3 separate regions of the Homo sapiens genome follow, and all the other regions are linked to region 2. Evidence: fine-mapped QTL for protein levels in blood plasma. A gene starts in region 2. Each other region holds a variant in brackets. All regions are shown on one strand. Distances are between the middles of the regions.

Region 1 (2,753 bases), 3.3 Mb after region 2:
TGAGCCGAGATCACTCCACTGTACTCCAGCCTGGTGATAGAGCGAGACTCCGTCTCAAAAAACAAAACAAAACAAAACAAAAACCCTCACACAAAAACCAAGACAAATCCCCTTGACACAAGTTTATCTGTCTAACAAACCTGCACATGTATCCCTGAACTTAAAAGTGAAAAAAATAAAGGCAATATGTGTCAGATTTGTGGTGGTGTCTGCTGTTTCACCCCCATATGGAAATGTGTGCCTGAACCCCGCTTTTTTCCTTGCTTATTGTGGCTAGGATTTGTGAATGTAATTCACATTCTCAAGAATGAGCTTTTTTGGCTTCATCGAGTTTTCACGTAGCCCTCATTAGTAACTCCTCTTGTTATTTTTGTCCCCTTCCTCACACCTTCATTTGGAATAATTTGTTGTTCTTTTTCTAAATTCTTTCTGTCATTGCCAAGGTCATTAATTACGTAGGTTTTATTCTTTTCTAATTCATTCGCTCATTTGTAGTTTTCCGATTTCATCATTTAATGTGTAATATTTACATTATCATTCCAAATTTATACCATGCTCTAATTTCTGTTTCAGTTTTCTCAGCTCATTGATTTATTGAGAAGTCTGTGGCTTCATTTCAAAAATGCAAGGATATTAGTCATCTTTGACTGCAGAATCTAGTGAGTCCCAGAGTTCCCAGGATGTCCTGGTGGTCTTTGTTAGGGGTCCAGGCTGGCTGGGGTTCATTGGTGTCCACTGGGGGCAGCTCCTGTGCCTTCTGGAGTCTCTGAGTCTCCTTCTGTTGAGTATGAGATCTGGGTCCCCCGTGGGCTAGTGGATGGCCAGGGGGGCGTAGATGCTGGGTTCAGCTGGAGGTTCCCTTTCCTGGGATGGAGGAGGCTCAGTTGCCTCCCGTCTGAGGGTCAAGCTGTGCAGCTGGGCGTAGGTCACATCCTGGGGGGCTTCAGATGCAGCAGCCTGCAGCGGGGGAGAGTGAGAGGGAAGGAACGTGGTGGGGGTGGGGGAGGCCTGGGGGCCTGGAGAGGAAAGGACTCTCTCAGTGTCCATCTGTCTGTCCTCTTCTGCCTGTCTGTCCTTTGTGTCCAGGAATTCCCCAGACAGTGGGGAAGGAGGAGAGGCCATTTCTCTCCTAGGTCTGGAGTGTTTCACCGGGGCATACGTCACTGCCTGGGGGTCTTCATCGTGTGGGCTCTGCTGGAGAGAGACAGTGGTGGGGGGTGTCCTTGAGTCCCCCTGACCTCCTGGAGTCAATTTTCCTCACTGTTCCCGGGGTGATCCGATTACATCCCTTTCC[T/C]GATGGAATCTCAGGGACGCCCTAAGGCCGTGGAGGGTCTGGCCGCTCCCTCCCTGTGGTTCTGGCCTCTGCTCCTCACTCTGACCTTGCCCATTTGGCTGCAGCCTCACGGGCCTTCCCGCAAGAGCTCGCTGCTGCCTCGGGGCCTTTGCACGGCTGTTTCCTCTGCCTGCAGGGGCTCGTCCATCAGAGGATCGTGTGCCCCACTCTGTCCAGGCTTCTCAGATGACAGCTGAGCAGACAGCCCTCCCCTTCCATTCAGACTGGCCCCACTGCCCCACACTCTCTGCCCTTTCCCTGGTTTATGTTCCTTACAGCACGTTGCACTCCTGGACACGATGCATTTATTTGCATTTTGTCTCCCACCATGAGGTGAGCTCAGGAGGCGGGGGCGGCTTTGCTCCCTGCTGTGTCTGCAGCTCCCATGGGGAGCCCCATCCACAGTGAGCTCCCTGGGAACACTCGCTGGTTGAATGAATGAAGGGGAGCCTGGGGGACCGGGTCGGTTCATTTATTCCTCATCCTCCTGAGGCCTGGGGAGAGCTCTAACAACCAGACGGCCAAACAGAGGATGAGGAGCAGGAAGGGGACCCGGGAGGAGGCCCACGAGGTCCCAGGACAGCAGAAGAGAGTGAGGTCGCAGCAGGCGGGAGGCAGCGTGCTGGACAAGGAGGGGTCCACCGTGACGATGCTGAGAGCCGGGGGAAGGAGGACAGAGAAGTCCTGCTGGATTAGATCTGGCACCAGGAGGCCTTTGGTGCCCGGGACAGGGGCGGGGCCTCACCGGAGCATCCATCTCCACCCCGTCCTTGGGCTGTGTGTCCTTCACGGCAGCATCTGCTGGGCCAGAGCAAGGGGTTCATCTCCTGGGAAGGTTCTCTGAGACTTCTCCGTCCTGCCAGCCCTTGCCCTGTTCCCACTAGGGTGGCTGAGATCCAGGGAGGGACTGTGATGTCCCTGAGGTCCCACAGTGTGGGTTCAGACCGCCTCCCCCTTGGCCCCAGACCCCCCCCAGCCTGTGCTCCTGCCCCCATTGCTACAGAAACTTTGGTGCTCCCTTGCCCACCCCAGGTGCCCTCCGCTTCTAGTCACTCACTGAGAATTTCCTCCTGGATGTCAGCAACTGGGCTGGCCCTGGGGGAGGACACGGGAGTGTGAGGGGCAGTGAGGGGGCTGTGCGGGTGGATGGGAGTCTTGGGTCTTCATGCAGAATTACCTCTTCTGCAGGCCCTGGTCCTTGGGCTCTGGCCCCGCAGCCCCTGCAGGACGGTAGAAATGGGCTGGACAGAGATGGACAGAGGGTCAGGCCTGGGAGAATTCGAACCAGCTGCCCTGCACACACAACTCGAGCGGAAAGAAGGAAACCTGGAGGCCCACTGGCACTGAGGCTTTAAATACGTCGTAAGTTTAAAGTAAAATCAGAAGAATCAAGCACTTCCACACATGCTCACATTTATTC
Region 2 (2,724 bases):
GTGCAGTGAGGGCCTGGACTCCTGGGTCTGAGGGAGGAGGGGCTTGGGGGCCTGGACTCCTGAGTCTGAGGGAGGAGGGGCTGGGGGCCTGGACCCTTGCGTCTGAGGGAGGAGGGGCTTGGGGCCTGGACTCCTGGGTCTGAGGGAGGAGGTGAGAACTTGGACTCCTGGGTCTGAGGGAGGAGGGGCTGGGGGCCTGGACTCCTGAGTCTGAGGGAGGAGGTGGGAACTTGGACTCCTGGGTCTGAGGGAGGAGGGGCTAGGACCTAAACTCCTGGGTCTGAGGGAGGAGGGGCTGGGGCCTGAATCTGAGGCAGAGGAAGTTCTAGTCGGCTCAGTCCTTAGACCTCCGGGTTTTGGAGAAAGAAAGTGTCTGAAGACAAATTCCGGCCTCTGGGGCAAGCAGATGGTGCCCCAGGCCTCCCTGCACCCCCAGCACTCTCTGTGCCACCCAGGGACCTGCAGGCCCTCACTCCGGGCTCTAGAGCCCTCCGGCACTGGGAAGCAGCCTGCCCAGGTTCAGTGCGGTTGGGGTGACTCACACACCTGCCCGTAGGTCCCTCTGTGTGCTGCCTGCCGACCTCTGTGTCCCCAGGAGAGAGCGAGCCAGCCAGCCGGGGAGACAGCTACAGCGTGTGTCACCACACTGGCCCCCGCCCCTGCCCCGGGCTGGGGAGCAGGCCCAGGCGCGATGGGGAAAGGGCCCAGGAACAATCGGGCTTTGTCCGCCCCCAGCACCCCAGTGCCATGCTCCCAGCAGCTCCGGCCTCAACCTCTCTTCCGGCGGGCAGGCGGGAGGGCGGTTACATCAATGGCTTCCTTTTGTCCCTGTCTGACAGTCCTCCTTTGCAGTCTCTGACTGCCCACCTGGCCCTGACTGGAGATTTCGGCACTCCACATCCTCCTGGTCCTTCTCCTCCAAGTCTGCCCACCCCTGAGGTCTCTTGCTCCATCTGTCTCCCTGGCCATGGAGGGGAGGGAGCTTCCATCTCTCTCTCTCTCCCATCTCAGTCTCTGTATTTGTGTCTCTCTCCCTCTTTTTTTCTCTCTCTCCCTTCCTCTCTCCCTTCCTCTCTCCCTTCCTCCCTTCCTTCCTTCCTTCTTTCTTTCCTTCCTTCTTTTCTTTCTTTCTTTCTTTTTTTTTGACGGAGTCTTGCTCTGTCACTCAGGCTGGAGTGCAGTGGTGTGATCTCAGTTCACTGCAACCTCCGCCTCCTGAGTTCAAGCAGTTCTCCTGCCTCAGCTTCCCAAGTAGCTGGGATTACAGGCACCCACCACCACGCCCGGCTAAATGTTTTTTGTATTTTTAGTAGGGAAGAGGTTTCACCATGTTGGCCAGGCTGGTCTCAAACTCCTGACCTCAGGTGATCCACCCACCTTGGCCTCCCAAAGTGCTGGATTACAGGTGTGAGCCACTGTGCCCGGCCTCTCTCCCTTTCTTTCCCCTTGATTCTCTGACTCTCCGTGCTTATCTTCTCCTGGGTCTCTTCTTAGATTTCCCCGGGGGTAGCACTGTGTGTGCCCAGAAGGGAGTCAGTTTCCCCAGGAAGTAGCGGGGATGATTCCCGAGCGATGAGGAAGCTAGCAGGATGGAAGAGGACTTGAGGACTTATTGATGAGATGCGGACACACAGCGAGAGGCATGGAGTTAAGCAGAAATCGGAGAGCACTTGGGAACGACGTGGGGCTGTGATAAGATGGTGGTGCTGGGCAGTAGCAGAGGGATCTGGGAAGATTTAGGGAGGTGTCTTTGAACTTGGGCCTAGAAAGCTGAGCCAGGCGTAGGTCAGGAGGAAAGGCCGTGAAAATGCCTGGCCTGGGTGCACATGGGAAACCACAGGCAGTGGTTGGGGTGGTTGGTATGGGCTGGAGGGTGAGGGTGTGTGCGTGGCAGAGTGGAGAGAAATGAGGAGGGGGAAGTCACTGCGTAATAAGGACAATGATAGGAATGAAGTCTGGCTCAGCACCTGCTTGGGCTGGGCACTACAGGTAACTTAAAAAAAAAAGTTCTTTTTTCTTTTGAGACAAGGTCTTGTTCTGTCGCCTAGGCTGGAGTGCAGTGGCACGATCCTTGCTCGTGGCAGCCTCAACCCTCCTGGGCTCAAGCGACCCTCCCGCCTCAGTCTTCCCAGGAGCTGGGACCATAGGCATGAGCCACTGTTCCCAGCCAACCCTTTTCTTTGTCTTGCATTGAATCTAATTGTCATCTTGCATTGTGCACCCCCCATCACTCCAGGGATGAAGACTACTTCGGTATTCAGTATACTCTCCGGGTGCTCCCTCTCACATTTGGTCCCCACTGACCTCAGCACCTTCTTCTCAGGACGTGCTATCTTCACAGACAGCAAGTCTGATGTTGCACAACCCAGTGACCAGGCCCTATCCCTCTGCCTCCTCTCTCTGGGGGGTCCCTTCCTCTCTGTACCCACACCCTCAACCCCAACTCAGAGCTGCACCTCTCCCACCTGGACCAGGATCCCTCTGTTCTCTGTATCCCTTGCCCCAGAGAGACCTTCCTGTGCCTTGTGCTGACCTTGCCCCTCCTCTCACAGACGTGCCCTGGGTCCCCATCTCCCTTGGGACCAAGTCCCAGCCCCCCAGCCTGGCATTTGAGGACCTTTAGCATCCAGGGAAGTCCTGGCCAATGAAATGTGATGCCAAGCACGCATGCACATTTACATTTTCCAATCACCATACTTTTTTTTTTAAGTCAGAAGATTTTTT
Region 3 (2,753 bases), 3.3 Mb after region 2:
TCGACGCCCGCCCCCTCACCGGCCCAGCCTCAGAGCCCCGGGGAGCCTGTGGCCCCTCCTCTGGCTCTGCCCAGCTCCCTGGAGGGAAGCTCCCGCTTGAGTCTTTGAGGGGAATAGGATCCTCGGGGAGACTCAGGGCTGCCTGGGGGGAGACCACGCTCCCTCCGAGCCCAGAGGCCTCAGTGACTCACCAGGTGTGGGGGTGGAGCCTGTAGGTGAGAGGCTGGGATCCCCAGAGGGTCCTGGGAATAAGCACAGAAAGGGAGCGAGGCGCTTTGGTGCTGAGTGAGGAAACCCGTCCCTCCACCTGCCCGTGGCTTCTCTGGAAACTTTCTTCTGCTCACCTTTCACCATTTGCATCCCAGGAGATGGGGCCAAGTGTGGGCATGCCTGGGGAGCCCCCGTTGTCCTCCTCCCCTCTGAGGGGTGAGTCTCCCTCTGGCTGAGCCCCCCTCAAACCCTCCCCCCCGCACCGCGACTCCATCCCAGCCCAGAGCTCTCCTGGGGGCAGGGCCTGAGCTGAGCCTTTGAGCTTGGACAGGACAGGGTCAGGGCCCTCACCTGAGACCACGAGCTCCTGGGGGTAACTAGGGCTGGACAGCAGGTAGGGGTAGGACCTGATTGCGCTGTAGCATCGGTAGGTTCCACCCTGGGCTGAGGTCACAGGACTCATGGAGAATTCAGCCTGGTGTCTATAAGACTGGTACTTTGACTTTAGACACAGCGGGGGATGGGCTGCCCCCTCCTTGGTCAAAAAGAAAGTGTCTATCTGATGCCATGACTGACACAGCAGGGTCACGTTCTCTCCTGAGGCCACCTTGGGGCCCGGCTGCACCGAGAGGGCGGGTATGTCAGGGATCAGTCCTGGAGAGAAGAAGGATGGGTGAGGGGCTGCCCCACCTTGCTCTGAGCTGAGACCTCCCCAGGCCTCTCTAGGAGCCTCTGTCTCTGTTTTCTCTGAGTCTTCCCCTCCCCACCCATCCCCTGTCTCTGTCTGTCTCTCCCTCCCTTGGGACCACCCCCCCGCCTCATCCCGGCCATCACTAATTGGATTCCCCCGGCAGGACCTGTGCAGAGCCTGGGTCCCTGACTGAACCCGCTGGGCTCCTCACCTGCGATCAGGATGTCCAGGGGGTCGCTGGGGGCCGACCACCTAGGGGAGAGGTTGTGTGCACCGTAGCATCTGTACTGGCCCCCGTGGGAGCGGCTCACAGGGCCCAGGGTGAAGTTGGCCTGGGAGAGCCCAGCCTGGGGCTGCTGGCCAGAGCCCTGGACGAGGTCATGTTCCCCCTCCTTGTACAGAACGAATATGTCATAGCCGACATCAGAGCGACACTGCAGGGTCAGGCTGCCTCCGCGGGCCACGACAGAGCCCTGCGGGATCAGGAGGGAGGGCTTCCTAGACACGCCTGGAGGGAAAGAGGAATTGGGACTTGGAAGGCTGGTTCCTCCCCCGCCCCTTCCTTCTCCCGTCCTGGCGTCCTGGCCCTGCAGGTCTCACTGTCTCTCACGCTCTGTGTCTCGGATCCCGGGGCCTCCTTCTCACCTGGGTCTGTCTTGGAGTAGTTCCAGACCGATAGTGTCTCTCTGACTCCTGGCCACTGTCTGTCTGGTCTGTCCTCTCCTCAT[T/C]GAGGGACAGGAAATTGCAGCAAATACACCCATTGCCTTCCTGAGTCGACCCCTTCCAGGTGAGGGTGACTCAGGCTCCTGTTTCCCCATCTGAGCCTCCCCGTGGGGTCTTCCTCACGCCTTCAGCCCATCCATCAACACATCCTTCTGGGGTCCTTGCCATGATCAGTCATCAACCAAACTCCCAACAACCTATCTGGTTCCCCAAAATTATATAAAGAAGTGTGGTGGCTTTTTCACCTGGGACCAGAATCTCCAGGAGGTCACTGGGGTTCGACCACACCTGAGGGTTTTTCCTGTAATAGTAATAGCATCTGAACCTCCACCTGCAGCTGGGGGTCACGGGACCCACAGGGAACAGGGCCTGGGATGGCCCTTTGGGGAGCTTCTGTGAGTACAGGGTCCTGGGGAGCTTCTGTTCTTCCTCAACAAGAACAAACGTGAGAAGTCCGTCCAGTGTATCACACTGGAGGGTCACATTTCCTCCTGAGGCCACCACAGGACTCGGCAGGGCTAAAAGAGTGGGTTCTGCATAGAATCCTAGCAGAGAAGGAGGCACGTCTTAAGTGGGGCTCCGACCTCCCACATCATCCCCAGGGCTGGGCTGTGAGAGGTAGACGTCCCTAAGAGCCGACCCTCTTCCTGAGGGCAGAGCCTGGGGCTGGGACCCCTGAGTGTCCTCTCACCTGTCGCCACCAGCTCCAGGGGGTCACTGGGCTCTGACCAGCCTGCAGGGGTCTCATAGTAGCAGCGGTATCGCCCTGCACTGTCATACACCGTGGATGGAATGTGGAACTTGGCCTTGGCTCCAGGCTCCAGTGGGTTCTGTCTCTTCCGGGCCCATGGGAGTCCCTCCTTATCCAGACGGTACTCCTCAGTCTCCAGGGGCCCCTGACACCAGAGGGTCACGGGCTTCCCCCGAGCTATCACAGAGGCTGGCTCAGCCCAGAGGGTGGGTTTGGGGAGGGTGCCTAGAATGGAATCAGAGGCTGGATCCCAAGACATCCCCATCCCTCAGATTCCAGCTCTCAGCCCCAGGACCCTCCAGACGTCCCCATCAGTCAGCCCAGAACAGCTATCTCCACCCCCAGCTGCCCGGGGTTGGGCCCTTGTCCCCAGTGAGA

Which allele goes with the higher level. Positions count from the first base shown, and alleles are read on the strand shown. Strength reflects both the effect of a copy and how common the allele is.
For the plasma level of the protein whose gene starts at base 648 in region 2, allele T in region 1 goes with a higher level than allele C (strong association).
For the plasma level of the protein whose gene starts at base 648 in region 2, allele T in region 3 goes with a higher level than allele C (strong association).

The links. PIP is the chance, under the fine-mapping model, that this variant and not a neighbour inherited with it causes the effect. Protein levels are from antibody-based Olink assays in UK Biobank. Linkage for the fine-mapping came from a reference panel and not from the study's own genotypes, which makes the PIPs less certain.
Region 1: its variant is fine-mapped to the plasma level of the KLK6 protein (UK Biobank, PIP above 0.99).
Region 3: its variant is fine-mapped to the plasma level of the KLK6 protein (UK Biobank, PIP above 0.99).

The regions. Positions count from the first base shown.
Region 1 is chr19:54,249,976-54,252,728 of GRCh38, forward strand. It overlaps LILRB5 (leukocyte immunoglobulin like receptor B5), which reads right to left. Exons shown (of 13, transcript NM_001081442.3): 10 at 2,511-2,574; 11 at 2,391-2,428; 12 at 2,079-2,131; 13 at 1-957. The coding sequence ends at 811. Among named protein-coding and RNA genes, the nearest start is that of LILRB5, 5.9 kb to the right of the region's middle. RefSeq lists an enhancer at 1,519-2,136. The variant T/C (reference allele first, on the strand shown) is at 1,295.
Region 2 is chr19:50,968,944-50,971,667 of GRCh38, forward strand. It overlaps KLK6 (kallikrein related peptidase 6), which reads right to left and starts at 648. Exons shown (of 7, transcript NM_002774.4): 1 at 547-648. The region is part of intron 4 of LOC105372442 (a long non-coding RNA gene); the gene reads left to right.
Region 3 is chr19:54,254,174-54,256,926 of GRCh38, forward strand. LILRB5 (leukocyte immunoglobulin like receptor B5) reads right to left here. Exons shown (of 13, transcript NM_001081442.3): 3 at 2,316-2,600; 4 at 1,870-2,169; 5 at 1,113-1,409; 6 at 562-864; 7 at 192-242. Among named protein-coding and RNA genes, the nearest start is that of LILRB5, 1.7 kb to the right of the region's middle. The variant T/C (reference allele first, on the strand shown) is at 1,630.